5 separate regions of the Homo sapiens genome follow, and all the other regions are linked to region 3. Evidence: fine-mapped expression QTL. A gene starts in region 3. Each other region holds a variant in brackets. All regions are shown on one strand. Distances are between the middles of the regions. Region 1 overlaps KCTD13 (potassium channel tetramerization domain containing 13). Region 2 overlaps YPEL3-DT (YPEL3 divergent transcript). Region 3 holds the start of INO80E (INO80 complex subunit E). Region 4 overlaps PPP4C (protein phosphatase 4 catalytic subunit). Region 5 holds the start of TAOK2 (TAO kinase 2).

Evidence for each region.
Region 1: its variant is fine-mapped to the expression of INO80E in whole blood (TOPMed, PIP 0.98).
Region 2: its variant is fine-mapped to the expression of INO80E in whole blood (TOPMed, PIP above 0.99).
Region 4: its variant is fine-mapped to the expression of INO80E in tibial nerve (GTEx, PIP 0.97).
Region 5: its variant is fine-mapped to the expression of INO80E in stomach (GTEx, PIP above 0.99). The same link has a PIP of 0.9 or more in esophagus muscle and gastroesophageal junction.

What each region holds. Positions count from the first base shown.
Region 1 is chr16:29,912,227-29,917,325 of GRCh38, reverse strand. All of the region lies in intron 2 of KCTD13 (potassium channel tetramerization domain containing 13), which reads left to right. It also overlaps a transcript of ASPHD1 not described here. Among named protein-coding and RNA genes, the nearest start is that of KCTD13-DT, 11 kb to the left of the region's middle. The variant A/G (reference allele first, on the strand shown) is at 2,176.
Region 2 is chr16:30,096,606-30,101,704 of GRCh38, reverse strand. YPEL3-DT (YPEL3 divergent transcript) reads right to left here. Exons shown (of 2, transcript NR_135192.1): 1 at 4,286-5,099. Among named protein-coding and RNA genes, the nearest start is that of YPEL3-DT, 2.7 kb to the right of the region's middle. RefSeq lists a silencer at 5,046-5,095 and an enhancer at 5,066-5,099. The variant TA/A (reference allele first, on the strand shown) is at 2,292.
Region 3 is chr16:29,993,725-29,998,813 of GRCh38, reverse strand. It overlaps INO80E (INO80 complex subunit E), which reads right to left and starts at 2,573. Exons shown (of 7, transcript NM_173618.3): 1 at 2,423-2,573; 2 at 2,197-2,267; 3 at 1,954-2,006. The coding sequence starts at 2,503. HIRIP3 (HIRA interacting protein 3) reads left to right here and starts at 3,197. Exons shown (of 7, transcript NM_003609.5): 1 at 3,197-3,273; 2 at 3,351-3,471; 3 at 3,597-3,711; 4 at 3,971-4,908; 5 at 5,006-5,089. The coding sequence starts at 3,209. RefSeq lists enhancers at 2,490-2,619, 2,680-2,849, 4,706-5,089.
Region 4 is chr16:30,078,641-30,083,739 of GRCh38, reverse strand. It overlaps PPP4C (protein phosphatase 4 catalytic subunit), which reads right to left. Exons shown (of 9, transcript NM_002720.3): 3 at 2,430-2,481; 4 at 1,206-1,256; 5 at 893-994; 6 at 173-346; 7 at 1-85. Among named protein-coding and RNA genes, the nearest start is that of PPP4C, 5.2 kb to the right of the region's middle. The variant G/A (reference allele first, on the strand shown) is at 2,304.
Region 5 is chr16:29,969,728-29,974,826 of GRCh38, reverse strand. It overlaps TMEM219 (transmembrane protein 219), which reads right to left. Exons shown (of 6, transcript NM_001083613.2): 5 at 3,249-3,419; 6 at 1,779-1,877. The coding sequence ends at 3,282. It overlaps TAOK2 (TAO kinase 2), which reads right to left and starts at 959. Exons shown (of 16, transcript NM_016151.4): 1 at 179-959. LOC124903762 reads right to left here and starts at 1,205. Exons shown (of 2, transcript XM_047435036.1): 1 at 1,047-1,205; 2 at 192-830. The coding sequence starts at 1,205. The coding sequence ends at 192. RefSeq lists an enhancer at 1-476 and a silencer at 900-1,269. The variant T/C (reference allele first, on the strand shown) is at 2,214.

The DNA.
Region 1 (5,099 bases), 81 kb after region 3:
TTAATCTAAATGGAACTCACTTTTGTAAATATGATTGTGAAGGGATTTAGCTCATTTTTGTCTTCCATAGGGTGAGGTAGTTTTCCCAGTGCCAGGTATTAAACAGTCCAGAGGTAGCCAGCACCCAAGACAGCCACCAGGGGTTCTTGCCTCCTGGTTTCCAGGCTCTTGTTCAGTCCCCTCCCACACCAAATAGGGCAGACCTTTTCAGATCCTCACCAAGGAGACCCTTGTGTATGACCAATAGGACATTGCAGAAATGACAGCATGTGACTTTGAAGCTAGGTCATAAAAGACATTACAGCTTCTGCCTCTCTTTGAGATCACTCACTCTATGTGAATGCTATGTGAGGACACTCAGGCATCCCTAAGCAGAGGTCCACTTGGTGAGGAACTGAAGCCCCTGCCGACAGCAAGCACAGACTCCCCGCCATAGTGGTGACCTGTCTCAGAACCAGAGCTTCTAGGCCCAGGCAAACCTTCTGATGACTGCAGCCCTAGCCAAAATCCAGACTGCAGCTTCATGACAGATTCTGGGCCAGGGCCACCCAGCTAAGCCCATCCCAAATTCCTGACCCACAGAAACTATGTGAGATAATGTTTATTTTTATTTATTTATTTTTAAATAGAGACAGAGTCTTGCTCTGTCGGCCAGGCTGGTCTCGAACTCCTGACCTCAAGCAGTCCTCCAGCCTTGGCCTCCCAAAATGCTGAGATTACAGGCATGAGCCTCCACACCTGGACTGTTGTTTTAAGCTGCTGAGTTTGTAGTAATTTGTTACCCAGTAACAGAGAACAGACTTTGGTTTCTGGAATGGGGGTCTGCCATAACAGAAACCTCAAATGTAGAAGTAACTTTACAACTGAGAAGTGGGAAGAAGCTGGAAGGACTTTGAGGAGATTGTTAGTAAAAGCTTAAGGAGTGTTAAAAAGTATTGGCTGGGCACAGTGGTTCACACTTGTAATACCATAACTTTTGGAGGCCAAGGTGGGAGGATCACTTGAGTTCAGGAGTTCGAGACCAGCCTGAGCAATATAGTGAGACCTTGTCTCTAAAAAAATTAAAAGAAAAAAGGTGAGAAAGTCTGTTAATAAGAGTCCAGTGACCTTTAAGACAGCTGCAATAAGGGCTTGAAGAACAGTTAGGAAAATGCTATTGGAAACTGATGGAAAGGAGATCCTTGTGTAGCGGCAGAAAGTTTAGCAACACTGTCTCCTGCATTAGTGTGGAGGGTAGGAAATATACCTAAGGAACGGATGGTCTAGCTAAGGAGCTTTCCAGACAGAATGTTGAAGGTGCCACCTGGCTTCTTGCTGCTTATAGTAAAACTGAAGAGGAGAGAGTAAGTTAAAGAAAAAAAACACTTAAATGAAAAAGAGCCTGAAATTGTTGGGTTTGAAAATTCCCAGCCTTTCCAGATAACAAGTGATGTTAAAATTAACAAATGGCTTCCGTGCAAAGATTAAATACAAGGCATTAAATACAGGGAAATGTGGTCTAAAGGTCAAGCTGAGGATGTGATGAAAAAGTCCTTTGTTAAGACCTCAGAAATACCAACAAGATGCCTCAGAGGGGACTTCCAGTCGAATGAAATAATAATCACGCTTCTGAGAAGGTTAAAGGTGTTGTCTTTCAGCGTCTCAGCACAAGCCCAAAGTAGAGAAGGGCTTACCTTGCAGAGATTTTCTTTTTTCTTTTTCTTTTCTTTTTTTTTTTTTTGAGATAGCTCACTGCAACCTCCTCCTCCTGGGTTCAAGTGATTCTCCTGTCTCAGCCTCCTGAGTAGCTGCGATTACAGGTGCCCACCACCACGCCCAGCTAATTTTTGTATTTTTAGTAGAGATGGGGTTTCACCATGTTGGTCAGGCTAGTCTCAAACTCCTGACCTCAGGTGATCCACCCACCTCGGCCTCCCAAAGTGCTGGGATTACAGGCGTGAGCCACTGTGCCTGGCCACTTGCAGAGATTTCTAGGTGTGGCTTTTTTCTAATGTAGTGAACCCTAAGACATGCAAGATACCCAATAAGTTATGAAGAGAATTATATTGGCAGAGACACTGCCAGCTTGGACTGAAAGGGACAGAGCCAGTGCAAAAGGACAAGACGGCTTTGCACACCCAAACTTTTACAGGCAGGAAGCAGGCAGATGAAACTGTGGAGCTGCAAACATCTTTC[A/G]TGGAAGAGGTGGGACGACTCAGGGAGAGCCATGGAGAATCATTCATGAACAGGAGTAGGCATCAAAGAGTTCCTAGCATTTCTCCAACTGGATTACAGAATTTCCACACACCAGTGACTTATATGTATGACTTATATGTGCCTCCTGTCCCCTGCCCCACTTTTTTTTTTTTTTGAGACAGAGTCTTGCTATGTTGCCCAGGCTGGTCTCGAACTCCTGGGCTCAAGTAATCCTCCCACCTTGGCCTCCTGAGTAGCTGGGATGACAGGCACACGCTACCACGCCCGGCTTCCCCTGCTTTTGAGCAAGAATGTCCTTACTGGTTATCCTGTGCCTGCCTCTACCACTGCACACTGGGAGTGTGGAGATGACCTGTCTCTTTAGCTCACAGGTCTGCAGATAGGAAATGCACTTAAGGGCTGGATGCGGTGGCTCACGCCTGTAATCCCAACACTTTGGGAGGCCAAGGCAAGTGGATCACCTGAGGTCAGGAGTTAAAGACGAGCCTGGCCAACATGGTGAAATCCCGTCTCTACTAAAGAAAATTAGCTGGGATGGTGGTGCATGCCTGTAGTCCCAGCTACTTGGGATGCTGAGGCAAGAGAATCACTTGAACCTGGGAAGCAGAGTTTTCAGTGAGGTGAGATGGTGGTGGCTCTGCACTTCAGCTTGGGAGACAGAGCAAGACTCCATTTCAAAAAAAAAAAAAAAAAAGAAATGCACTTAAGGAGCCATAGTTACGGAACTGCATGCTAGAGCCACATCCCCACCTGGACCTGACTGAGATGATGAGATTCTGTACTTTGAGCTGATGCTGTAATGGGATGATGGGGGATCCTGGAAGGTGGTGAGTATATTTGGCATGTGGGAGGGGGGAAATCACTGAGAGCCAGCGGTGGCCTGTGGAGCCAGCCACCAAGGCAGCCTGATGATTCTCGTCCCCTGGTGCTCGTTCCTGTGTGTCATCTCCTTCCTCACTGGATAGGACCAACAGACCTAGGTCATAAAAGACAATGGAGGGGCCCGGCGCTGTGGCTCACGTCTGTAATCCCAGCACTTTGGGAGGCTGAGGCGAGTGGATCACCTGAGGTCGGGAGTTTGAGACCAGCCTGGCCAACATGGTGAAACCCTGTCTCTACTAAAAATACAAAAATTAGCTGGGCGTGATGGCACACCTCGGTAATCCCAGCTACTTGGGTGGTTGAGGCAGGAAAATCACTTGAACCTGGGAGGCGGAGGTTGCAGTGAGCCGATATTACGCCACTGCACTCCAGCCTGGGCGACACAGTGAGACTCCATCTCAAAAATAAAAAAGACAATGAGGCTTCCACCTTGCCCTCTCTGGAATTATTTGCTCTGGAGAAGCCAGTTGCCATGCTGCGAGGATACTCAAGCAACCCTGTGGAGAGATCTACATGGCAGGGATTTGTTGTTTCCTGCCAGCAGCTAGTGCGAACTTGCCAGCCACATGAACAAGCTTTCTCAGAGTGCATCCTCTAGGGGCGGTCATGCCTTTGATGCCCACAGCCCCACTGACATCTTGGCCACAGCCTCAGAAGAGACCCTGTGCCGGAGCCACCCAGCCGAGCCACTGCTGAGATCCTGACCCTCAGAAACAGAAGTAATAAATATTGTTAATTTAAGCTCCTAAATTGGGGGCAGTTTGTTACACAGTGATAGATAACGAATTCATACTCCGTAATTCCCCTCGCACATTTGTGGTGTCTTTTTAAAAATACCAATTCTCATATACACAGTGGTCTGTTTCTGATCGCTCTGTTGTGTTTCTCAGGTATTTTTGTTTCTGTGCCCGAACTGATACCGTTCTCACTGTTGTGGCTTTGCAGCCTATCTTAATATCTGGCAGGGTCGGCCTTTCCTCTTTGCTCTTATTTTTAAAAACTGACCTAAGTTTGGGAGGATGGCTTGAGCCCAGGAGGTCAAGGCTGCTGTAAGCTGTGGTCATGCCACTGCACTCAGCCTGGATGACAGCAAGACCCTGTCTCAAAAAAAAAAAAAAAAAAAAAATGGCCTCAGTAATTGTAGACTTTTATTATTCTCTGTTAATTTTAGAGAGTCTTATGAGTTTCTGCAAAAAACAAATCTGGAATTTGTATTAGAATTGCGCATTGAGTTTTCAAGGTTGGGAGAAGTGAGAGGGATTTTGGCATGAAGATTCTAGAAGACAGAAGAGAAAGAAGCCCATGGGTTTGCTTCAGATTTCTTTCTCCAACGTCATCCCACCCAATGAAGTTCATTCACTCAACAAATATGTTCATTCATTCAACAAATACAGAGCATCAGCTGTATACTAGGTAGTTATTCCTAGGTGGGAAGAGACAGATCATAAACAAATACAAAAAGTTAGAAAAAGTCAGACACTAACTGCTGTGTAGAAAATGAACTGATAGGCCTGGTGCAGTGGCTCACGCCTGTAATCCCAGCACTTTGGGAGGCTGAGGCGGGCTGATCACCTGAGTTCGGGAGTTCATGACCAGCCTGACCAACATGGAGAAACCTCGTCTCTACTAAAAATACAAAATTAGCTGGGTGTGGTGGCACATGCCTGTAATCCCAGCTACTCAGGAGGCTGAGGCAGGAGAATTGCTTTAACCCGGGAGGTGGAGGTTGCAGTGAGCCGAGATGGCGCCATTGCACTCCAGCCTGGGCAACAAGCGAAACTCTGTCTCAAAAAAAGAAAAAGAAAACTGATAACACAAAAGGCAGGATGTAGAGGAGGCTGTTTTAGCCAGGGGGGCTGGGGAGGGCTGGCCCTGAGGAGGCACTGTGTGACCTGCGATCTGAATGGCATGACGGACACGCCACGCTGACAGCTGAGCAAAGAAGCATCCCGGGCAGGGGCACAGCCAGTGGCCGGGGCAGGCACAAGCTGGATGTGTGAAGCAGCAAGGTGTCCGTGGGA
Region 2 (5,099 bases), 100 kb before region 3:
GGTATGGACTACTCCAAAATACTTGGAGTCAGTGTAAATAGTTCCTTCCTGATTTTGCAGAGATTTTAAGGCCTGATTTAATGCAAAGAGTTCACATGTTTGAGTGAACCAGTTATTGGGCCGTCTCCCTGACTCTACCTCCATGAGGGTTTCCCTGTCAACTACAGAGCACCCGTTATGCCTCCTTCCTTCAATTACCCGAGAGGAGCCGTCTATAAAGAGGTAATGCCCAGTTTGGAACAGGGTCTTGCTTAGATGCAGTCTGACTCTAGTCTGATAACTGATCAGATCTAAACATTTATGCTCAGGTTCCTCCCGGTTCGGATTTCCTGTTAGGAAAACATCGGAGTTGAGCGAACTACCAGTGGTCAATGTTAAATCATCCCTCTCTAATAAGATAGCCTCAATTTTTTTGGGGGGTGGGTGGAGGATGGAGTCTCGTTCTGTTGCCCAGGCTGAAGTGCAGTGGCTGATCTCGGCTCAGTGCAACCTCCGCCTCCGGGGTTCAAGCAATTCTCCTGCGTCAGCCTCCCAAGTAGCTGGGATTACAGGCGTGCGCCACCATGCCTGGCTAATTTTTTGTATTTTTAGTAGAGAGGGGGTTTCACCATGCTGGGCACTCTGGTCTCAAACTCCTGACCTTGTGATCTGCCCACCTCAGCCTCCCAAAGTGCTGGAATTACAGGCGTGAGCCACCACACCCACCCGATAGCCTCACATTTTAAAATCCTTGAGTCAGTGAGCTATCTTCCTGCCTTCTGATTAAGAATGGTTCTAACGTGATGAAGGGTACATACAATGAGGCTTCCCCCAAAGGTTATTTTCCTGCTTCGTTCCATTAGCAAAGCAGTTGCTGCTACAGACTGGGCACATTCGGGCCATCGGTGGGTTACTGGGTCAAGAACTTTTGACAGGAAGGCTATGGGCTGCCAGTGGCCTCTGTGTCTTTGGGTGAGTACCCCTAAAGCCAACCCCTTGTTTACACTGATGAAAAGGTGGAATGGCTAAGGAGGGCAAAGCTATAACGGGGGCAGTTACAAGTAGGTGTTTTAACTCTTCTACTTGTTGGACTTCTGATAGGGTCCAAAGAAGGGGGTCTGGTCCTTCTTGGGTGAGTTTTTTATGTAGAGATTTTGTTTTTCAGGCATAAGAGTCAATCCATAGACGACAGTATCCAACTAATCCCAAGAATTTTCTAAGTTCCTGCTTTGTTTCAGGCAAAGGTAGAGATGTGACACCTTCAATTCGTTCAGGTACTATTTTCCGTTTGCCTTTACTGATTAGGTGTCCTAGATATTTTACCTCAGGTTCTACAAACTGAATTTTACTCCTTGAGACCCGTAACCCTTGTTCCCTTAGGAAATTCAGGAAGTTAATTGAAACTGTGGTTATGTGGTCCTTGCTATTTCCTGAAATGAACAGGTCATCTGCCTATTCGAGTAGGCATATGGATGAAGGAAGGGAAAAGTTTTCTAGGACTTGTTCTAAAATTTGACCGAATAGATTTGGGGAGTCTGTAAACCCCTGGGGTAGGACTGTCCACTGGTACTGCTGTTTTCGACCTAAGTGAGGGTCCTCCCACTCAAAAGCAAACATGTCCCGGCTGTCTTCCGCTAAAGGGCAAGCCCAAAAGCCATCTTTCTTTTTTTATTTTTTATTTTATTTATTTTTTGAGACAGAGCCTGGCTCTGTTGCCAGGCTGGAGTGCAGTGGCACGATCTCGGCTAACTGCAACCTCAGCCTCCTGGGTTCAAGCAACTCTCCTGCCTCAGCCTCCTGAGTAGCTGGGATTATAGGCACATGCTGCCATGCCTGGCGTGTGTGTGTGTGTGTGTGTGTGTGTGTGTGTGTGTGTGTGTATTTTAGTAGAGACGGGGTTTCACCGTGTTGCCCAGGCTGGTTGCAAACTCCTGAGTTCGGGCAGTCTGCCCGCCTCAGCCTCCCAAAGTGCTAGGATTACAGGTGTGAGCCACCGTGCCCAGCTGGCATCTTTCAAATCTATCATTGTGAACCACTGGTGATCATATGGGATTTTGCTGATAATAGTGTAAGGGTTGGGAACAACAGGGTGGGTAGTTTGAGCTGTTTGATTAACAGCCCAGAGGTCTTCTACTAGCCGGTATGACCCATCTGACTTTCTTACAGGCAATATTGGAGTGTTATAAGGGGACATACAGGGTTCAAGGGGTCCGTCATGGACGAGGCCCTCAATTATAGGTTTTAGAGCCATTCTAGCTTCTAAGGGAATAGGGTATCGTTTTCTCCTGACCACTTCCCTGGGAATTTTTTTT[TA/A]ATAAATAAATCAATAAATCAATAAATAAATCTGACGGTGGAACCCAAATCAGAGTTAATCACTTTCTTTCTTTTTTTTTTTTTTTTTTGAGACGGAGTCTTGCTCTGTCTCTCAGGCTGGAGTGCAATGGCGTGATCTCAGCTCACTGCAAGCTCCACCTGCCAGGTTCACACCATTTTCCTGCCTAAGCCTCCTGAGCAGCTGGCACTACAGGCGCCCGCCACCACGCCCGGCTAATTTTTTGTATTTTTTTAGTAGAAACAGGATTTCACCGTGTTAGCCAGGATGGTCTCGATCTCCTGACCTCATGATCCACCCACCTCGGCCTCCCAAAGTGCTGGGATTACAGGCTTGAGCCACCATGCCCGGCCTTTGAGCCTCTCTTAATTAAAAGTTCCTCTATGGAGCAGTCTTGCCAATTTTCTATCTTTTGTAATTTCTTTCTAATGTCCGGCCGACTGTTGGTGATAAAATAGAGCTTTAACATCCCTTGTCCAAGTGGGTCCTCTATGTCTAAGCCTGAATATTTTCTTATTTGCTCCTTAAGTGTCTTTAAAAATTCCATGGGCCCTTCATCTTTTTCTTGGTGTACATTAAATGCTCGAGAAATATTTTGGGTTTGAGGCACCAATTCCTGAATCCCTTTAATTATCATATCCCTGAGGTCTTTCATGTTTTCTCAGTGGGCTGCATTGTTCCTATTCCACTGAGGGTCCTGGGCTGGGAATTTCTGCTCTGCTGCAGGGATGTTTTGACCAAGAGGGTGTTCACATTCCCAGACTATCATAGCAGCCCTGCGGATCATGGTTCTTTCCTCCCCTGAGAAGAGAATACCTAAGATGGACATTAATTCAGCCCAAGTATACAATTGCGGCCCTAAAAATTGTTCAATTTGATCTGTGACTCCAAAAGGATCATCTGATAATGGTTTGAGTTCCTTTTTCAGATTTCTAACCTCTGAACTAGTTAAGGGGGCATTTACGAAACCAATACCCCCTCCTCCCAGTGGTACTTAAGGGAAAAGGGGTTGGGGCAGACCCCTTTGAGGAAGAGGGAAAAGGAAAGTTCTGAATATCCCTCCGGCATTGTTCCATCTCGTGCTGGAGTTTTCCTGAGGAAAGGACATGTTCGGGTGGCTGCTCAATGGGGATGTGGGGCCACAAGGCCCACAGGGCAGGGTTATGTGGGGGAGGGACTGAGTGATTAGCCTGAGGTGGGGTAGGCGGGGGAAGATGGTCTAGGGGATCCTATACATTGGCATCTTTAGATGTAGAATCTGACTTAACTGGGTTGTCCTAGGAGGGTACTGAGTTTGGTTTCTCTTTTACGTCATCCTTTAAGGGAAAGGGAAGGACATGTTCCTGTCTCCAACACAGAGCATAATCTATTTCCTCTTGAGAGACTGGACTTTTTTTATTAACATACTGGATTAAGAGTTGGCATATCCAATCCTCGTCTGATCCAAACTTTGGCCAAAAGACTGAGGGTCTGAGGATAGGTTCTTTGGTCCAAATAAAACAGCAATATTTTATCATTCACTGTCTTTCCTTGTGTTACATGGTTCTTTCATTATACCTCCAGTACTCTAACATAAGGCCCAGAGGACTGTCAGGGGGAATTTTATTGTCTGCTTGGCCTTTTGTACTCCCTGTCTTACTTGGGGTATTTCCCATTCTGGAGGTTGGTGCCCATTTCCTAGGGGCTTAACCTCTCCCTTTTCCCATTGGAGGTTTCTTGCACTCATATGAATAATCGCTTCGTACTTTTTGGCCGCTTCCCTCGTGGGAATTTCAGGCCCCTCTTAGCATTAGCGGGTCGGTATAATCCCCGACTGGAAAACCGCCCTAAGCCTTATGAGGTGACCATGGAACCAAGTCTGGACTCCACACTCGATTCGTGTCCACTGACATGTCTCAGCCATGCACTTTCAACCTCCAAGTGACCCCAACCACCAAGGAAATACTTTGTCGCCCCAGTAGCAACTTTTCTTACCTTGGTCTGTGCACAGAGTTACCCACTTGCCTGGGAATTTTAAGGCTCCTTCCTGCCCACGTTGCTGAAAGTCCGGATTTATTCCTCACTTTGGGTGGACCCGATCCTCCGCTCCTTGGGCCACTGCAACAAGGCAGTGGGACGTGTCTCACGAGGAAAAGTAATCGCTACCCCTCCCAAAGGAGAATGGGATCCCAGAAGACCCTCAAATTTGTTGAAAACAAGTGCTCAGTGTAGTCAAGAAAAACCAGCACTGAGACAGAAGACTTCCCAGCAAGGCATCTTTACTTCTGCAGAAGGGTGCTGCTTGCGCTGGTTGCAATCCCAAGAGCACCCGCCAACAAAGGAGGGAAGTGGTTTTTAACCCTAACGCAGTTCCTGTTTCTGTGTCCTTTCCCCATTGGCTGGGGGGTTGGACCGCACAATCTGAGCTGATCCCGATTGGCTAAGGTTTAAACTTTCCCAAATAGGGTAGACGTGCGACAAAGAAGAAAAAGCGGGAGTAGAATCTGTTTACAGCTTATGACCAGGAAATTGAGTCTTTGAAGAGGAACTTAGCTGTCCCAACAGAGGCATCCGAGAGGCCTGGAGGAGGTGATGCTGGACAGTAGGAATTGCCTGGTCCGACGCCCTGGCTGCCAGGGGCGCGCATCTTTGGGTCTTCCCTGCTAGAAGGTGAACTGAGTGTGTCCCTGGCGCTCTGGCAAAAGCCATGGAATGGGCCCACAGTGAGAATTCCAGCTTCGCCTCTTACTAGCTGGATAACCTAGGGAGCCGCGAGACCTCCCTGGGCCTCAGCCCCCGGTACAGTGGA
Region 3 (5,089 bases):
TCGGCCTCCCAAAGTGCTGGGATTACAAGCGTGAGCCACCGTGCCCGGCCCAGACCAATGTTTAAAGGCACCACGGAGAGAGGTGATTCTACGTGACATGGCTTACGAGGGCCTCACCCAGGAAGAGGCCCACAAATGCCTACCTTAGGGCTTTTTCAAACTGTGGGTCTCAAGCCATTAGTGGGTCATGAAATCAATTTATTGGTTTGCAACCAGCATTAAAAGAAGGGGAAAAAAGCAGTCTAAAAAGTGTCAGGATGAATTGGATACAGTGATCTTAAAAATGTTTCGTTAAACTTTGTTTTGTTTAACATGTGGGGCCCTGGTTATGATGTAAAATATAGTTAACTGCAGACAATATTCAAATAAAAGGACGAAAACAGTGTTCTCTCTCTTTCATGCCTCTGCTCTTCAACCAAGCCTGACCTGTTCTTACCTCAGGGTAGCTGCATTTATATTATTCTGCCGGGACAGCTCTAGCCCACTTCTTCACAAGATTGGTTTTTGTTTTTTTTTTTTTTTTGAGATGGAGTCTGGCTCTGTTGCCCAGGCTGGACTGCAGTAGTGCAATCTCAGCTCACTGCAAGCTCCACCTCCCAGGTTCACGCCATTCTTCTGCCTCAGCCTCCCGAGTAACTGGGACTACAGGTGCCCACCAACATCCCCGGCTAACTTTTTGTATTTTTAGTAGAGACAGGGTTTCACTGTGTTAGCCAGGATGGGGTTTCTTTCTTTTGAGACAGTCTTGCTCTGTCACCCAGGCTGGAGCACAGCGGTGCTATCATGGCTCACTGCAGCCTTGACCTTTCAGGCAAGGGATCCTCCTGGTTCTGCCTCCCAAGTAGCTGGGACCACATGTATACACCACTATACATGGCTAATTTTTTTTTAATTGAGATGGGGTCTCACTATGTTGCCCAGGATGGAAGGCTGGTTTCTTCTCTGGTCCCAACTCAAATGTCACTCTGTGAAAGGCCTTTCTTGAGTACTCCATTCAGAGGTTGCCTGCTGCCTGCTTGTGTGGTCTGCAAGCTAAGAAGGGCGTTTTTTTTTTTTTTTGAGACGGAGTCTCGCCCTGTCACCCAGGCTGGAATGCAGTGGCAGCGATCTCGGCTCACTGCAACCTCTGCCTCCAGGGTTCAAATGATTCTCCTGCCTCAGCCTCCCCAGTAGCTGGGATTACAGGTGCACGCCACCACACCCGACTAATTTTTGTATCTTTAGTAGAGACGAGGTTTCACCATGTTGGTCAGGCTGGTCTTGAACTCCCGACCTTGTGATCCGCCCACCTCGGCCTCCCAAAGTGTTGGGATTACAGGCGTGGGCCACTGCACCTGGCCAAGAATGGCTTTTAAGCTTTTAAACGGTTGGAAAAAAAAAAAACTAAAGAAAAATTTTTCATATGGAAAAATATGAAATTCAAATTTCAGTGCCTATAAAGTTTTATAGAAACATAGCCATACTCATGTATTTGCCTATGGGGTACGGCTGCTACTACAATGGCAGAGTTCAGTAGGTGCTTCAAAGATTGTATGTTGCAAAAAGCTTACTTACCATCTGGCCCTTTGCAGAAACAATTCATCAACCCCTGTTCTACTATAATCATTACCGCATAACTGTTTTCATTACCTTCAAGTCCTTCCTATGACCTAAAATTCTAGTCTATTGTCTTCATTTACTTATTCTTCCCAACTAGAATATAAATTACAAGAGGCCAAGGGCTTTGCCTATCTCTGCCTCTGCTGTATCCCCTGTGCCAAGCACAGTGCCTGAAACACAATAGGTGCTCAGTAAGTGCCTGAATGAAAGAACGGTGGAGGTGGAAGGCAAGCAACTAGGCTTAAGGACCACTGGGGGCTGCATCAGCCACCACTGCCTAAAAGGCGGGGGCCCAGGAAGCTTGCTAAGTACCAGGAACCATGCTCTCCACCAATTTTTGAAGACCTTGCTCACCCGAAGAGTCTTCATCCACGTTCTCGTACTGCAGAAGTCGGTCTAGGAGGAAACTGAGGGGAGGGAAGGAGACACGGACAGTGATTTTCCAGCGCAGCAATGTCCTCCTGGGTACCTGTCCCTCCCAGCTGGCCCATCGGATACTTGAAAGAGCCCATGCACTTGTGGCCCTACTCGGGGATGGGGTCCGAATGTAGATTTCCTAGGAAGCACATCGCCCTCCGCCCCTGCAACGTGCCTCACCTCTTGTCCCGGGACACCTTCAGTAATTTCCTTTGCGCTTTCCTCAGCTCCTCCTGGAAGCACTCGTGCTCCTGTATCACGGGCAAGGGGTGCGCTGGGCCAACGGTCCTCCGTGAAGGGCCCCGGAACCAGCGGCCGCTCGCCCCACCCACTTTACACCTGGGTAAACTGAGATCTTGTCCGCGCCAGGCCTCATCCCCCACAGCCTTCCCGCGGCAGCACTCACGTAGATGAGGAACTTGAGCTTCCGCTTCAGATTCCGGTATTTTTTTTTGTAGTCCACTTCGCCGTCCGCCGGCCCGTTCATGACCGGCCCGGGAGTGGCGCCCAGAGTCTGCCCTCCCGCTACCCCAAGCAGTGGCTGCCGTGCCGCTCCCGCCTCCACTTCCGGAGACGCTGCAAGGCTGTGCCGTCAGGACTACAACTCCCGGCGTACCCCGCGCTCAGGGGCGTCACCGCACGGGCCGACCTCCCGGGGGACACTGGGACAGGAGCGCGGCAGCCACTGCGCTGGGGATGGCGTAGCAGCGACGCGGTGACGCCACAAAAATGGCGGACGCTGGAAAGCGCCGTTCCTGACTCTAATGTACTTAGACACTTGAAGCCACAAAAGGATTTATCCCCGAGGTTCCTCATCTGCTCGCGAGGATGCCTTTTCTCTTCTGCCTTGCGAAATAACAGCAGCCTAGCTGTTGCCCGTGACCAGTGAGAAAGGCAGCGTCGCGGGCTGATTAGGTTTCACCCAAAGGGTGCCGGCGCCGAATTGGTTTCTAACGAGAACTTTTAAAATGATCCGTTCCAAAAAAGGGTAGGAGCCGCGAGACCCTCCAACTGCCCAGAGAAAACAAGTCTCGTCTGGCAAAGTTCTCGGCCCACGCGGTCCGCGGCCAAGGGCCAACGGTCCCTCGCCCCACGTTGCCGCAGCACTGCGCGTGCGCGAGCCGCTGTCAAACGCGCTGACGGAGGCCGAGAAGAAAAAAAGGCGGGAGCCGTCAATCCCGGGTTGAGCAAAATGGCGCGGGAGAAGGAGATGCAGGAGTTCACCCGTAGCTTCTTCCGAGGCCGCCCGGACCTCAGGTGCCCAGGGGGTTGGAGATGGGGTTGGAAAGGGCGCGGGTGGGTCGGGACTCCGTCCTGACACCATGTCCCTGCAGCACGCTTACGCATTCCATCGTGCGGCGGAGGTACTTAGCTCACTCGGGCCGCAGCCACCTGGAGCCCGAGGAGAAGCAGGCACTGAAGCGGCTGGTGGAGGAGGAGCTGCTGAAGATGCAGGTGTGCCGGGCCGGAGCCTGGGCCGCGGGAGGCGGAGGCGGGGCTTGCTGCTGAGGAGGAGGGGCCTGACGGGGCGCGGTGAGCGCAGCCTTGGTGCATAGTTTGCCCTCTTGGCGCACACACAGGTGGATGAAGCCGCTTCCAGGGAAGACAAACTGGACCTTACCAAGAAGGGCAAGAGGCCTCCCACCCCTTGTAGCGACCCGGAGAGAAAAAGGTTCCGCTTCAATTCAGAGTCGGGTTAGTGCTTCCTCCCTGCTGTGGGGGCCTTCTGCATCGTTGGTTCACTCAAGAAGCATTCACTGCGCATCTCTTATGTCCCCAGGCGTTAGATGAGGGAGCAAGGCTAGTGAGTCAGGAACCGGGAACAGCAAGTACAGATAGCTGTTTCCTGCTGCCCCTCCAACTGTCAGGGCAGGGCTCGAGGCAACCTATCCGAAGTGAAGGGAGAAGGGACAGGAGGAGCCTGTCTCAACCCTCTCTCCTCTCCATATTCCAGAGTCCGGCTCTGAAGCCTCCAGCCCAGACTACTTTGGACCCCCAGCAAAGAATGGGGTGGCAGCAGAAGTCAGCCCAGCCAAAGAGGAGAATCCAAGGCGAGCCTCAAAGGCAGTTGAGGAGAGCAGTGATGAGGAACGGCAGAGGGACCTGCCCGCACAGAGGGGAGAGGAGAGCAGTGAGGAGGAGGAAAAGGGGTACAAGGGGAAGACTAGGAAGAAACCTGTGGTAAAGAAGCAGGCACCAGGCAAGGCCTCAGTCAGTAGGAAGCAGGCCAGGGAAGAAAGTGAGGAGAGCGAGGCAGAACCCGTTCAGAGGACAGCAAAGAAGGTGGAGGGAAATAAAGGAACTAAAAGCCTGAAGGAAAGTGAACAGGAGAGTGAAGAGGAGATCCTAGCCCAGAAGAAAGAGCAGAGAGAGGAGGAAGTGGAGGAGGAAGAGAAAGAAGAGGATGAGGAAAAGGGGGATTGGAAACCCAGAACCAGGAGCAATGGCCGGAGAAAGTCAGCTAGGGAGGAGAGGAGCTGTAAGCAGAAAAGCCAGGCAAAGAGGCTCTTGGGAGACTCAGACAGCGAGGAAGAGCAGAAAGAGGCAGCCAGCAGTGGGGATGACAGTGGGAGAGATAGAGAACCCCCAGTGCAGAGGAAGAGTGAGGACAGGACCCAGCTTAAGGGTGGGAAGAGGTTGAGTGGAAGCAGCGAGGACGAGGAAGACAGTGGGAAGGGGGAACCCACAGCTAAAGGCTCTAGAAAGATGGCCAGACTGGGCAGCACCAGTGGTGAGGAAAGTGACTTGGAGAGGGAGGTAAGTGACAGCGAGGCAGGGGGAGGCCCCCAGGGGGAGAGGAAGAACCGCTCTTCCAAGAAGAGCTCCAGGAAAGGCAGGACACGAAGCTCCTCTTCCTCCTCAGATGGAAGTCCAGAGGCCAAAGGAGGGAAGGTGAGGGTGAGGAGGGGTGGGAGGCCACTATTAGGGAAGAGGGAGACCCTGCCTCAGGCCCAGCAGGCTTGGCCTTCAGCTGCTCTTTCCTTGCTAGGCTGGCTCAGGTCGCCGTGGAGAGGACCACCCGGCTGTGATGAGGCTGAAGCGCTACATTCGGGCCTGTGGTGCCCATCGAAAC
Region 4 (5,099 bases), 85 kb before region 3:
GAGGCACCTCTTGCTTTCGGTCGATTGTCCGAATCTGATCCAGGGTCTGGATGGAGGGGGAGAGGCCCCCGTGCACGCAGAAGATCTACAGGGGAGAGCAGGGAAAGAGGACGGGGCTGAGGCCTGAAGCCCCCCTCCTCTCCCTGTCCCATGGAGCCCTGGGCTGGCTTACCTTGCCATCGATGATGGCTGACAGGCTGAGGTAGTCAAAGATCTCAGTGCAGTAGCGCCACACAGTCACCGAGCCGTACTTGCGCAGGCACTCATCGTAGAAGCCATAGACCTGCGTGATCTGGCGACTCTCATGGTTGCCCCGGATCAGTGTGATGCGATCAGGATAGCGAACCTGGGGGTGGCCACCAAGCCAGGGCTGGCGCCTAGACGGTCTCTCCACACATCCCTCTCTGACCTCCTCGTGCCCGCCAGCCTGCCATCCTCACAACCACTGCCCAGCACACTCCTGGCACCTCTTGCCTGAATCGTGTGGCATCAGCCACCTCCCAGGCCCACACGACCCCTCCAGAGAATGTAAAGCTGACCCATTCCCTCAACTATGAACCTAATGGCTCTTCTTTCACCTACCAGACACAGACCGGGTCCCTAGCAAGGCACCCAGGCCCTTTGTCATCTGGCCCCACACTGCCTCTCCCACCAGTGGCATCAATGACCTGCCACATTCGCAACAGTGAGCCTCTGCCCCTCCCAGAATGCTGCCCCGCTGGCCTCAACCCCCATCAAGTCTCTGACCACCCCCAAAAGCAGAATCGGTCCATCACCAGTGACACAGCTCCAAGGTGGGGCTGGTCACGATAGGAGATGAGGGCGGAACGGACTAAGACAGGCCCGGCCCGAGGTCGCCCAGGTTGGGGGTGCAGAAGCCGGGGACTGCCACCTTAAGTGCCAGCAGCAGGAGGAACGTTTCGACGCTATAGAAGCCACGGTCCACAAAGTCCCCCATGAAGAGGTAGTTGGTCTCAGGGACGTCGCCACCTACCTGTGGGGAAGTAGAAAGTTTTGCCCTGTCGTAAACAGTCCCCTACCCCCTACCTGTTTCTGTCCAGCGGAGGCCCTTCTTCCACAACCACCCATCTAACTTGGGGCCCCTTGCCCCCACTCCACGCCCCAAATTAAGGCTCCCACCCTCAATTACAGGGGTCTTCCAGTCATCCCCCCGTTACATTTCACAGTGTTGGCCACACTCTTACTCTGAACAGCTCTTTGAGGTCATAGAATTGTCCATGGATGTCGCCGCACACCTGGGGAACAGGAAGAGTGGGGTTGGAACTCAAGCAGTGGGAGTTGCCAGGGACTACCCTCCAAACACCCGCTGCTTTAGTGAGCTTTATCACTCTTGGCTGCACTTCTACTTCCTAGGACCAAAATTCTCCTCTCCCACCCCAAGTCAGTCTGGTCTGGAACCATACCCACTGTCCTATGCTGAGTACCAACTATTCTGTAGGCAAGAGCTAGAACTAAGTCCTTCCAGGTAGATGTCCCGGCCCCTTCCTCTCTCTACTCCCCACAAAGTACCCAGAATCAAGTTACTAACACAGAGCCCTGGAGATATGTGAGCAGAATCACTCGCCAAATAGGAGTCCTTCTGCCCTGGCCAAGAATCTCCACTAACAAATCCAAAGTCCCTTCCCATAACCCCTTTCTTTTCTTTCCTTTCTTTTTTTTTTTTTTAGACGGAGTCTCACTCTGTCGCCTAGCCTGGAGTGCGGTGGCGCGATCTCGGCTCACTGCAAGCTCCGCCTCCTGGGTTCACGTCATTCTCCTGCCTCAGCCTCCCGAGTAGCTGGGACTACAGGTGTCCACCACCACACCTGGCTAATTTTTTTGTATTTTTAGTAGAGATGGGGTTTCACCATGTTAGCCAGGATGGTCTCGATCTCCTGACCTCATGATCCACCTGCCTCGGCCTCCCAAAGTGCTGGGATTACAGGCGTGAGCCGCCGCGCCCGGCCTGTTTTTTTTGTTTTTTTTTGTTTTTTTTTGAGACGGAGTCTCCCTCTGTCACCCAGGCTGGAGTGCAGTGGCCTGATCTCAGCTCACTGCAATCTCCAACTCTGGGGTTCAAGCGATTCTCCTGCCTCAGCCTCCCAAGTAGCTGGGATTACAGGCACGTGCCACCACGCGTGGCTAATTTTTGTATTTTTAGTAGAAACGGTTTCACCATGTTGGCCAGGCTGGTCTCGAACTCCTAACCTCAAGTGATGTGCCCACCTTGCCCTCCCAAAATGCTGGGATCACAGGTGTGAGCCAACGTGCACAGCAACCCCCACTTCTTTTAGCAGTGCTCC[G/A]TTGAAGGTGAGGGAAAGGACAGATAAAAGAGCTTAGGGTTGGGCTTATAGAGCCCCCAAGATGAAGAGGAAACTTCATGTGCCTGAAAGACCAGGCCTGGCTCTGCAGGGACAGCAGGTACTCACTGTGACTGGCGAGTCCACCCTCTGCACGTTGCTCTCCTCTACCAAGATCTCTCTGGAGACAGGAGAAGACCAGGGTCACCACAGCCAGGCCAGCCCAGCCCAATTCCTGACCTTTTTTGGGGGGAGGGGAGGATATGAGGCAGTCCTGGAAGCTCCAGGGGGCAGGAGTGAAGCGTACAGTCTCCCCAAAACAGGCTGACCACGGCCCTTCAGCATGCAACACCCTTCCGTGGCCCCCTGCTGCCAAAAGGACAAAGTCCAACCTCTTATCCCAGCGTTCCAGGCCTTCTGAGCAGGCTGGGACTTTTCCAGCCCTGACTCCCCCTGCCGCTCCCTCTTCCGCATCCAGGACTCACTCCTGGGAGGCGGGTCTCCCCATCCTCTCCACAGCAGAGCTTAAGTCACCCTTGGCCAATCACAGAGCCCTTCTCCCAGGCTATCCAGACACAAGGGTAGGTGCCCAGGGCAGGCCCACAGTGGATGCGCCTTCAAAGTGATGCGCTCTTGGCCAGGTGCGGTGGCTCATGCCTGTAATCCCAGCACTTTGGGATGCCAGGGTGGGCAGATCACGAGGTCAGGAGTTTGAGACCAGCCTGACTAACATGGTGAAACCCTGTCTCTACTAAATATACAAAAATTAGCCAGGCGTGGTGGCGCGTGCCTGTAATCCCAGCTACTTGGGAGGCTGAGGCAGGAGAATCGCTTGAACCTGGGAGGTGGGGGCTGCAGTGAGCTAAGATCGCGCCACTGCACTCCAGCCTGGGCGACAGAGCAAGACTTCATCTCAAAAAAAAAAAAAAAAAAGTGAGGTGCTCTTGCCATGTGTTCAGTATTTCTTTATGACTATGAGGACTTAAATATTTTTTATTTCTCCTTGCAGTGCAGTCTACTTCTACTTGAGTGAGCAGGAGATGAAATCACTTTGCCAGGTAAGACACCCAATTTTTTTTTTTTTTTTTTTTTTTTGAGACAGAGTCTGGCTCCATTGCCCAGTCTGGAGTGCAGTGGCGCCATCTTTGCTCACTGCAAACCTCTGCTTCCTGGGTCAAGTGATTCTCCTGCCTCAACCTCCCGAGTAGCTGGGATTAGAAGCATGTACCACCACGCCCAGCTAATTTTTGTATTTTTAGTAGAGTCGAGATTTCACTATGTTGCCCAGGCTGGTCTCGAACTCCTGACCTCAAGTGATCTACCCACCTTTGCCTCCCAAAGTGCTGGGATTACAGATGTGAGCCACTGCACCCAGCCTATAGATACCCAATTTAAGCAACACTGTATTTCCAAATTTTGCCTGGTAATAGCAGCAGTGAACATTCGAGCTCATACTGTGTGCCACAAATGTTATTAAGAGCTTGGCAGGCAGGTACTATGATGATTCCCGGTACACAGATGAAGAAATTGAAGCAGGGAAGGAGGCTGGCTTGGTGCCAGTGACACAGGTGGGATATGAACCAGGGAAGCCTGGCTCTGGGGTCTGACTCTTTATCAAGATATTCTGATGTGGGAGGCCCAACTCGCCTGGCCCCCCTCTTTCTGCCAATCTCTTCCCTTAGAATGAGTTTCCTGAGCTCAGTGGACAGGAGGATTCACTTATGCCCCTTGCTCTGTATGGCAGAGGCAGCACGAAGGAGGTCTGCCCTGGCTTTCTGGGAACAGAAGGCAGCACTGGCGGTGGTCCAAGAGGCCACATCAGTACCCGGACTCTCCCACCTGCACTGCTTCTTGTGCTGAACATCCTTCCCCATCAACTGCTCATAGTGACCTTTCCAACAGACTGGGGAGGTTCTCTTCAGCCTCACGTAACAGTAAAGAAACCGAAGCTAGGCCGGGCGCGGTGGCTCATGCCTGTAATCCCAGCACTTTGGGAAGCCAAGGCAGGCAGATCATGAGGTCAAGAGATTGAGACCATCCTGGCCAACATGGTGAAACCCCGTCTCTAGTAAATATACAAAAATTAGCTGGGCATGGTGGCGCGTGCCTGTAATCCCAGCTACTTGGGAGGCTGAGGTAGGAGAATCACTTGAACCTAGGAGGTGGAGGTTGCAGTGAGCCAAGATCAGGCCACTGGCACTCCAGCCTGGGCAACAACAGCAAAACTCTGTCTCAAAAAAAAAAAAAAAGAAAAAAAGAAACCAAAGCTTACAGAAAAGCGGGAGGGTCAAGGTCACCAAGCTGGAGAGTGGCTAAATTGGAACCCAGAAGCCCAATTTCCTGAGAATTTATGCCAGCCCCTTCCACAGACCCTGAGTGAAAACCTGAAGCCCAGGGAGGTCACATGCAGGGCCCGTGCTCTCTGCAAAGCCCCCCTCAGTGCCAGCGCAACCCCAGTGTGGCCTGGGAATCAGGCCCAGATTCCAGCCCCAGTTCTGCCACTTGCAGCACTTCCCCAGCCCTATCAGGACCTGCCTGCAGTAACGGCTACCAGCGCAGCAGGCCCTGTGCCCGGATACCCGGACTCTCAACTGCATGTCATTATCACTTCAAAAAATCAGAAAGTGACTTGACGAGGGTCATATTGCTTCTAGGTGACAAGGCAAAGATTCATACTGAAGACCACCTGATTCAAAAGCTCAGCTCTCCTACTGTGCTAATATTTCTAGTAGCAGCAATTTCAGCTCAGACACTGCGGACCTCTGTGCTTCCACTGGTTTCATCTGCATGTCTGTGCCC
Region 5 (5,099 bases), 24 kb after region 3:
GGAAGAGGAAGGGGAAGGGGGTGGCAACAGAAGGCAAGGCTAGCCAGAGGCTGACCACTCGCTCAGCTGGGCTTCCCCATCCTGAGAGGGCCTACCCAAGTCCAGCTTCTCAGAAAGGCGCACCCTTTCTTCTCAGAACTAGACACAGGGACCCGCGCCCCTGCACCCCGTGTCTCACCTGGTAGGGGTCACTATGGTGCCCCAGCGCCTCCGCTTCCGCCTGGGGTCCTCCAGCGGCTCTGCCAAGCAGGGAGAGGGGCAAGGAGACCTTTCCCCTTGCCACCTCTTCCTCGGCTTTCGCCCTTCCTGAGGGGCGGGCCCGGGAAGCCTCCCCTGGAGGGGAGGGGGTGACAACCTAATCTGACCTCGCGGTCCAGTCCTCCCCCTCGTCGAGGGCGACAGCTGCCGAATTCCGGATTTCTGATTGTGGGGTCTGAACCCCGAATATCTGAACGGGATGGAGACTGAATCCGATATTTGAACGCCCGGGGAATGAACCCCGGATACTGGTGCACGCAGGGGCCTGAACCTGATATTTGAAATTCTATGAAACAGAGACCCAGGTTTAGAGAGGTTGGGACCCGAGTCCCGGATATCTGGACTATGAGGACTGTTACCCGGGTATCTGAGAAAGGAGGAGGGGCAAAGCCTGGAAATTTGGGACCCAGGGGCCTGAGCTGTAGGTCTTCGGCCACCGACTGGGGGCCCACCCCGAGGACGTCCGGCCGCACGGCCCCTCTCACGCCGGGGTCCGAGGGTGACAGCCCCCACTCCCGCCCCGGCCTCCTCCCTCTCCCTTCTCTCTTCCGAGAATAGCTGAACGATTGTAGCTAAGGTGCTGCTGACGGTCCCCGCGCCCTCTCTGCCTCTCCTCTTCTCCGTCTCAGCCTCTCTCCGCACCACAGCCCCGGTCTCGTCCCGGTCTCCCTCTCCCTCTTCCTCCCAATTCCAAGATGGAGACCGGGCGGGAGCGCGCAGGCGCGGTAGGGACGCCGGGCTAAAGGGGGCGGGGGCGCAGAGGACTCAGCCCCGCCCTCTCTCCTCACTGCCGCGGCCTGGGAGACCGGCAGCCGCCAAGCCCGAGTGCGCGCCCGCCCCGCCACGCGGACCCCAGGCCGGAGGAGGCGGGGAGAAGAGCTAGACTTGCAAGGGGAGGAGCCCGGCACTCTGTCCCACGACTGGCGGTGGACAGAGCTGCAGCGCATGCGCTCGCCCCGCCTTCGCTCTGAGCCCGAGCTTGTTGCTAGGGGAAGCTTTGAGGGGGCGCGGGTGGACGGACAGCAGCGGCGATCTGCGACTGCGCGCAGGGTGGAAGTTGGGAGGGGCAAAGGAAGCTGCTGCTGGGCGCGGAAAAGGCGGGAAAATAGACTGCTCCGAGGTTAGCAACCATCTAACCTGGAAAAGGGCCTCCAAGTGCGAGGAATCTTTGCGCGTCGACGCTGGGAAAACTCAATCGGTCAAATCTCTTACGGAAATTGAGGCGCTGCAGGTTGCAAGACTTGCCAAGGTCACAGTGCATTTATGTCACAGCATTTCCATGACCTGACACCCCACCCGCCCAACTAACTGTAATTATCCATTTTATTTCGTAGAAGAAAACAAGACAGGTGTTTACCAAAGCCAAGTCAACCATGGGGAGAGCTCAAGTAACCTATGCCCTATGCCAACCTGTGTCCAAACTAGAGAGTCAACAGGAAAGAGTCCCCCAAAACTTCTAAGCCTGCCTACCCTAAAATCCCCACCTCAATCCAACCCCCAATAAACACCATACACGCCACTGGGCAAAAAAGCTTTTTATTTTCCCCCACATTCCAGCTCTTCACTTTTTCTAAAACCTTTTCCAACTCAGAGCCAAGGCCCAAGAAGTTGATTCACACCTGGGGAGAAAGAAAATAAAACAACAAAACAGGTCGAAGAGCTGCTAGAGGAAGCTCTGAGATGTGTGCAGAAATTGAGGAAGGAGCAGAGGGAGTGACAGCTAGAGACCAATACGGGCATTTAATCCCAACTAAGGTAGCCTCAGGACCCCAGGGTCTGTCAGGGGCCAGGAAGCCCTCCTTTCCCAGTCCAAGGTTGAGAGGGTCCTGTCATTTCCTGTCCCAAGTAGGTGGTTGGGGCATTTAGGCCCAGCCATCAGCAAAATAAGCACAGTTGATCTTGAGCTTCCACTTCCTCTGGCCTGATCAGTTCCCTGGGCCTCAACTATTTCCACT[T/C]TTCCCATAGTAACTTCCTAGGGCACTGCAGCCAGCTGAAGCTGAGACCAGTTCAAGAGCTGGATGCATAACACATGGCTCTCAAATTTCATGCACCCCCCTCTGACAAGTGAAGATTTTTTGCAGAAATATTTTTTCCTTTAGTGAGCTGATGTGTGAACTGGTTAACCAACATGACCCCCACCCACTGCTACGTTTGTGAAGCTGATTCCCTCCAAAGATCTTGTTAACGGAATCAGCTTTTTCTAAAGGTAACGATGACTAAATGGAAGACAGAAGGTGCATGTCAAGTTCTTGGGCACATACTATGTCCCCAGTAAATGAGTATCATCAGTTAGACTCTTCTGAGCGGTTCAAGTTGAATTTTACAAAATTTCCATCATAAAACTGGGTATTGGAATTTCAGGACAAAAGCAAGACAAACATGGTTCATATTCAGGACAAATCATCAAATGTGAACCCTCTTAACTCACCATTGTTACCCAAATGCTTGGATGTGAACTAGTTATGAGTCTTAAAATCACAATGTTGCTTGAAAGAAGTCAGCCACAAAAGAATGTGTATGATTCTGTCTACATAGTTTCAAAAATAAGTAAAACCAAACTATATTATTTAGGAATACATACATGGCAATACATTATAAAGCAGGACAGTAATTTCTAGGGAGAGAGAGGGCATTGTCAGGAAGGAAGGGACCATGGGGGGTTTCTGGACAGCTGGTAATATTCTACTCAGTGGTATTTATAAGTATCCACTTTATAATAATTTGCCAAGCTGTCCTTTTATACTATTGGACTTTTCTACATAAGTGTTAACTATTTTATAATAAAAAAGTTAAAGTAATTAGAAAAATATTGAATGCTGACGGTGTCAAATTGTTCCCAGTCCCTAAGGGAGAGCTGTGGTTGAAGAGGTTCTCGGGGACTCAGAAGCAGCAGTCTTTGAGGAAAAGTCCAAGGATCTGCTCTACCCCGGTTACAACCCCCACCCCCACCCCATTCCCTGCTCCCGCAGGACTGGAGCAAAGAACCTCACCTGAGAAACAAGTCGGGAACTAGGCCAGTGCCCTCAGAGCCGGGTTCTAGACCAGTGGGACTCCCGGCGCGGGTGGAAGCACATAGCAGTGACACAGCAGAGAAGGCCACAGAAGAGAAGCAGGAAGGAGCCCAAGACCAGCAGCCTGGAGCCACACAGAGCCAGCTCCTCCTAGGGAGGGGTACAGGGAGAGGAGGAGGAGGACATGTTAATCCAGTCCAAGGGCTATAGAAGGAGCCTCCATGAGGGAGAGGGCTCTCCACATCTAGGGAGCAACTGAAGGGAAAATGTTATTTTCATATAAGCTGACATTTGTCTTTTTTTTTTTTTTTTGAGATGGAGTCTTGCTCTGTCGCCCAGGCTAGAGTGCAGTGGCGCGATCTCAGCTCACTGCAAGCTCCGCCTCCTGGGTTCACGCCATTCTCCTGCCTCAGCCTCCCAAGTAGCTGGGACTACAGGTGCCCGCCACCACGCCTGGCTCATTTTTTGTATTTTTAGTAGAGACGGGGTTTCACCGTGTTAGCCAGGATGGTCTTGATCTCCTGACCTCATGATCCGCCCACCTCGGCCTCCCAAAGTGCTGGGATTACAGGCGTGAAACACCGCGCCTGGCCCTTTTTTTTTTTTTTCTTTTTGAGGCAGGGTCTCACTCTGTAACTCAGGCTGGAGTGCAGTAGTGCAATCTCGGCTCACTGCAACCTCCGCCTCCTGGGCTCCAGCGATCTTCCCACCTCAGCCTCCTGAGTAGCTGGGACCACAGGTGTGTGCCACCACGCCCAGCTAATTTTTTGTGTGTTTTTTTGTAGAGATGGGGTTTCACCATGTTGCCCAGGCTCGAACATTTGTCTTGATGGTTTAAAAACTACTTTCTTGCCCAATTATCAACCTGAAACCCCATCATAACTCCATGAGATAGGAAACTTCATTATGATCCACAGTTTAAAGATGTATAAGTGGCTGGGTGCGGTGGCTCACACCTGTAATCCCAGCACTTTGAGAGGCCGAGGTGGGTGGATCACGAGGTCAGGAGATTGAGACCATCCTGGCTAACACAGTGAAACCCCATCTCTACTAAAAATACAAAAACTTAGCCGGGCATGGTGGCGGGCGCCTGTAGTCCCAGCTACTTGGGAGGCTGAGGCAGGAGAATGGCGTGAACCTGGGAGGCGGAGCTTGCAGTAAGCTGAGATTGCGCCACTGCACTCCCGCCTGGGCGATAGAGCAAGACTCCATCTCAAAAAAAAAAAAAAAAAAAGTGCAAGCAGTGCTAGATCTGGAAACCAGATCTCTGATTCCAAGTCCCAGGTTGTGCTCCTCATGGGGTCTTTTCTTTTTTTCTTTATTTGAGACGGAGTCTCACTCTGTTGCCCAGGCTGGAGTGCAGTGGCATGATCTCAGCTCACTACAACCTCTGCCTCCCAGGTTCCAGAGATTCTCCTGCCTCAGCCTCCTGAGTAGCTGGGATCACAGACGCCCGCCACAACATCCAGCTAATTTTTAAATTTTTAGTAGAGATGGGGTTTCACCATGTTGGCCAGGCTGGTCCTGACCTCAAGTGATCCACCGGCCTTGGCCTCCCAAAGTGCTGGGATTACAGGCGTGAGCCACCGTGCCTCATGGGGTATTTTCAAATGTGAGAGTGGAGTGTGCAGCAGCCTCCTGACTGATGGCCCTCCTCCACTCAGCCATTCTCCACCCAGCACCAGGGAAGCACATCTCTCTCCTCCTTAAAACTCCTCAGTGGCCCCCACGGCCTTCAGCATCAGGTCATAGCCCTCTATCCTGCATTCACAGAGCCTCTCCATCAAATCCCTGTGGTCTCTCTTGCCTTTTCTCCTTCCTAAGCCTCTC